Linked DNA regions of Homo sapiens: region 1 is linked to region 2. A link means that fine-mapping ties the variant in region 2 to the expression of a gene that starts in the linked region. Tissue or cell type: whole blood. Region 2 holds a variant in brackets; the other region holds the start of a gene. All regions are shown on one strand. Distances are from middle to middle.

Region 1 (2,763 bases), 26 kb before region 2:
GTTCCCAGCCTTGCCATATTCTCAAAGAACTACACACTGAAGTTGCAGAAAGCATATAATAGACGACATAGCTTCAGTTATTTAAATTCAAATTTTAAAAGTACTTTACATAATCTAAAGGTACATGTACAAGACCATTCAGCTTCAGCAATAAATAAAGTCTTACTCTAGTGAAAATGCAGGAAGCTTTGCGGAAATATTACCTAGCACATTTTGAAATAGAAGCAATGTTTTATTTCAGAGAAGAAAATGAAGGTTGAAAGGTTTTAAAATATTAAAGACAGTTTAGCCTCAATCGAAGAAATAACATTTTCTAGAAACAACAGAGAATAAAAGTTACAACAAAATTATCAACAACTTGCAAATGATTCAAAACAGATTTTATGGACAAAATGCTGAAAGGTGGGCCCTGTACACCAAAGGGCACATACAAATCCACATAAAGGCAAAGCACCAGTTAAATGATTCACAGTCTCATCTAAAGCCCATCAAATAGATACATCTGGAACATCTTTGGATGTACATTGTGACTTTTGTATCTCAACTAGCACTTTGGGACCTTGGACAAGGTGTTAGGAAAGAAATCAATATTTGCTCAGGATCAAGACTTCTCAAGATGACTGCGTGAGGTAGAAGGAAGAGGGAGAAGAAGAACTTGCCCAGAGTTCACTGTTCATCTACTATGTCTGATTCTGTAGGAGTCTTCATGGCCATGTTCAGTAATGATTGCATACTGACAGTACTGATAAAACTATCAGTGTTTTGTTCTCAGAGCTCTTGGTCCTTTCATTTTGTCAGTGTGTTTTTGCCCTACGTAGTGGGTCCACATACCAACAGAGACATGTACAACTTGCCTCTATCATCAACTCCTTATGGGCTAGTTGAGCTAAGTTATTCCTGGTGGCCTCTGAGTAAACCGCAAGAACAGAAGCATTACTAAGCATCCCCGTCTGAGTGCAAGGGTGTGTGTTGGCAGTACAGCCCCAATCTTGCAAAATCCTTCTTCCAATGTTCCTCCCCTCTCTGTATGAACCCTGTGTTGGGGGGCAGAAGATGGAAGCCCTTGGCAAGCTCGATCGAACCAAGCTACTAAATTGCTGAGCTCGTTTTAACTGAAGTGTGAGAAGGAGGTTTAAGGCAAGTAGACAACATCCTGTTGTTGGGGTGCTTCTCTCTTTTTTGCACATCTGGCTGAACTGGGAGTCAGGTGGTTGACTTGTGCCTGGCTGCAGTAGCAGCGGCATCTCCCTTGCACAGTTCTCCTCCTCGGCCTGCCCAAGAGTCCACCAGGCCATGGACGCAGTGGCTGTGTATCATGGCAAAATCAGCAGGGAAACCGGCGAGAAGCTCCTGCTTGCCACTGGGCTGGATGGCAGCTATTTGCTGAGGGACAGCGAGAGCGTGCCAGGCGTGTACTGCCTATGTGTGCTGTGAGTATGATACGGTGGACATGGGCCTGCTGAGGGTGTGGGCGGTGGGCAACAGCAGCTGGGGCCAGGGTGGAGGCCGAGGCAGGCAGGGGCGCCGGCGTTAGCAGCTCGCCGACGCCTCCTCCGTGGCCCACCCTCAAGTCCAGCCCAGGGCCGTGGTGGAACACACTTTCGCCTCAATCCCTCGCTGGGGATTTCATTCCCTGGGCCTCCTGCTCTCCAGAAGGCCCTCACCAGAGCCTTTTGGGGCAGCTGCAGAGAATGCCATTTCGGGTGGTGAAATGTGGTCCACAGTTTACCTTCGCTCCGGGAAAGACCCAGGCTCCCCACTTCCATTTTGACCCCTATCGGGTGGCGCCCTGCGAGCCTTACTCTAGCTCTCTTTAAACGACTTTTGAAGTGTCATCCCAAAGGAAGAGCATGACATTCAGAGAGAGGAGGCACATTAAGAAACAGAGTCAATTACTTTAAGAATGCAATGCCAGTTAGGTCGAGATGCTGAGAGAGGAGGGGGATGTGTGTCAGTAAAATCACCTCTCTGGATCTGCTGATGTAGCATCCTTTAGAAAAGTAGTGGGGGGTGGGGAGGGGCAGGGGATTTCAGAAATAGGACCCTTCTTGATAAACGTTAGGACTCACAATAGTCTTAAAGGGAATGGAGGGAAAACACCCTTGTTATGATTCAGCTTTGCCATTTGCCTAGGCATGTCTCATTCTAAGGCTTCATTTTGAATCAAATTCATCTGCGTCTTTGCTCCAGGGCTCCGGAGTCAGGCAGATCTGAGACTTTGTCCTGTGCTCGTCAGATGTTAGGTTTGTGACTTGGGCAAATTAACCTCTCAGTTCCCCAGTTTTCTTATCCATTGAATAGGTATCATATTACTGCCTACCTCATAGGATTGTAAGATTAAGTGCCATAATGCAGTAAAAAAATTAGCACTGGGGCCTGACACCTAGTAAATGTTCAATAAATGTAAGCTATTGGTATTATTATTATACCAAAGATATATTATTATTTTATCTTCTCTTTTCAGTTGATTTCTTTTAGGAATCATGGGGGCATTTCTAAGGAAGGACCTAGCTCAGGCATTATTGTCAGCAGGATAAAAAAAAAAATCCATGAAAACAGCAGCCCTGCATTGTAGGTTCTAGACAGAAACCAAATGAGGTTAAATGCTTGGTAGTAAGTTCAGCATCTGATAATACCCCACAAGAGTTTGAAATACCTTATGGGTCAGTGAAGAAAGATTATCCTGATGCTGGTGCTAGAAGATTTTTCACTGTATATTGTTTTTTAAAAACGGTCAAGCCTTGTTTGTGGCAGCTCTCAGGT
Region 2 (2,754 bases):
TATAATTTAAATATATGCTAAGTCTTATATATTGTAGATAATACAGTTCGGTGAGCTACAAATGCATTTCTAAAGCCATTGTAGTCCTGTAATGGAAGCATCTAGCATGTCGTCAAAGCTGAAATGGACTTTTGTACATAGTGAGGAGCTTTGAAACGAGGATTGGGAAAAAGTAATTCCGTAGGTTATTTTCAGTTATTATATTTACAAATGGGAAACAAAAGGATAATGAATACTTTATAAAGGATTAATGTCAATTCTTGCCAAATATAAATAAAAATAATCCTCAGTTTTTGTGAAAAGCTCCATTTTTAGTGAAATATTATTTTATAGCTACTAATTTTAAAATGTCTTGCTTGATTGTATGGTGGGAAGTTGGCTGGTGTCCCTTGTCTTTGCCAAGTTCTCCACTAGCTATGGTGTCATAGGCTCTTTTGGGATTTTTGAAGCTGTATACTGTGTGCTAAAACAAGCACTAAACAAAGAGTGAAGGATTTATGTTTAATTCTGAAAGCAACCTTCTTGCCTAGTGTTCTGATATTGGACAGTAAAATCCACAGACCAACCTGGAGTTGAAAATCTTATAATTTAAAATATGCTCTAAACATGTTTATCGTATTTGATGCTACAGGATTTGAAATTGTATTACAAATCCAATGAAATGAGTTTTTCTTTTCATTTACCTCTGCCCCAGTTGTTTCTACTACATGGAAGACCTCATTTTGAAGGGAAATTTCAGCAGCTGCAGCTCATGAGTAACTGATTTGTAACAAGCCTCCTTTTAAAGTAACCCTACAAAACCACTGGAAAGTTTATGGTTGTATTATTTTTTAAAAAAATTCCAAGTGATTGAAACCTACACGAGATACAGAATTTTATGCGGCATTTTCTTCTCACATTTATATTTTTGTGATTTTGTGATTGATTATATGTCACTTTGCTACAGGGCTCACAGAATTCATTCACTCAACAAACATAATAGGGCGCTGAGGGCATAGAAGTAAAAACACCTGGTCCCTGCTCTCAGTTCACTGTCTTGTTGGACGAGAAAACAATAACGATAAAAGACAGTGAAAGAAAATAACGATAAAAGACAGTGAAAGAAAATAACAATAAAAGACAAGGAAAAAATAACAATGAAAGTTGATAAGTACATGATAAGCGAGGTTCCCCGTGTGTAGGTAGATCTGGTCTTTAGAGGCAGATAGATAGGTCAGTGCAAATACTCTGGTCCATGGGCCATATGAAAAGGCTAAGCTTCACTGTAAAATAATAACTGGGAATTCTGG[A/G]TTGTGTATGGGTGTTGGTGAACTTGGTTTTAATTAGTGAACTGCTGAGAGACAGAGCTATTCTCCATGTACTGGCAAGACCTGATTTCTGAGCATTTAATATGGATGCCGTGGGAGTACAAAAGTGGAGTGTGGCCTGAGTAATGCATTATGGGTGGTTTACCATTTCTTGAGGTAAAAGCATCACATGAACTTGTAAAGGAATTTAAAAATCCTACTTTCATAATAAGTTGCATAGGTTTAATAATTTTTAATTATATGGCTTGAGTTTAAATTGTAATAGGCGTAACTAATTTTAACTCTATAATGTGTTCATTCTGGAATAATCCTAAACATATGAATTATGTTTGCATGTTCACTTCCAAGAGCCTTTTTTTGAAAAAAAGCTTTTTTTGAATCATCAAGTCTTTCACATTTAAATAAAGTGTTTGAAAGCTTTATTTACCTAATTTGTCTTGAAATATTCCTTATAATTCCTTATAAAATATTCAGAGACTGATGCTATTAATAAACCAAATAAAGGATTGATGATTATCTTATCGGAGTGATTCCCTGGAAAAGGTAAGTGCTTTTCTGATTTTATTGCTGTCCAAGTTCCCGGTTGATGAGCCTACTTCCTGTCTTCTTTGGCTGGCCTTTTATTCATCAAGTTTTTTTTTTTTTTTTTCACCTTTTCTTTCCCAACATGAGCATCCTTGCTATTTTCCAGTACGTAATCACTTGCACCTTTACAGAAAGGTCATATCCTTGCTGTATCTAAAATATTGCCATGCTAACATATTGTAAGATGCTGAGTCAAGGTAGAAAAATGCACAATATATTTCCAAGTGTGCAGCTCTCTTCAGAAAAAAAAAAAGTGTGTCAGCAAGCCCAAAAGGAACATGACAGCTTATCAAATACTTATTCATTTCCTCTGAAATTTGTTCTTAAGAGATAAGGTCAGTAGGGAGACAAGCTTAGGTAATTGTCTGTTTGGCTGTTACAGGCAGGGAACCTTTGTGGTAGTGCACAGGTAGAATAAGTCTATAGAGAATGCCTCTGATTAAGTCCTCTGCTATAAATAAAGGGCTGGATTTAAGATATTCTTTCGGGTAGAATGGACACAGAATTAAAAATGTGAGAAACAGCTTTAAACTCTGTTAATAATGTTTCAACATCAGCTTATGTTTTATTTGATTCACTTCGTTAAGCTTAGAATCCAAAGTCTACTACTAGTAAAACCCAGATTTGCCCTTGAGCATTTCAAGGTTATAGGATGCCTGGTCTTCCTGTTAGGATGCTATACATTCAACTTTGACACCTATGTTTTCTCTTGCAGTAAATGGGATACCACTATTTTGTAGTTTGCAACTAGGGGGGAAGTTAAACTACCCAGTTTGGACATTTTCCTAATTTGGGGTGATTGGCCAAACTTGTAGTAAAAGGCTGAATTCTTATCATTAGGTCATTTAGTTCTTAAATGAAG

The links. PIP is the estimated chance that this variant, and not a neighbour inherited with it, causes the effect. A credible set is the group of variants that fine-mapping cannot tell apart.
Region 1: SH2D1A starts here. The variant in region 2 is the best candidate, but not a certain one, in a credible set for the expression of SH2D1A in whole blood (TOPMed, PIP 0.72).

The regions. Positions count from the first base shown.
Region 1 is chrX:124,345,350-124,348,112 of GRCh38, forward strand. SH2D1A (SH2 domain containing 1A) reads left to right here and starts at 1,214. Exons shown (of 4, transcript NM_002351.5): 1 at 1,214-1,430. The coding sequence starts at 1,294.
Region 2 is chrX:124,371,423-124,374,176 of GRCh38, forward strand. It overlaps SH2D1A (SH2 domain containing 1A), which reads left to right. Exons shown (of 4, transcript NM_002351.5): 4 at 1-1,738. Among named protein-coding and RNA genes, the nearest start is that of SH2D1A, 26 kb to the left of the region's middle. The variant A/G (reference allele first, on the strand shown) is at 1,290.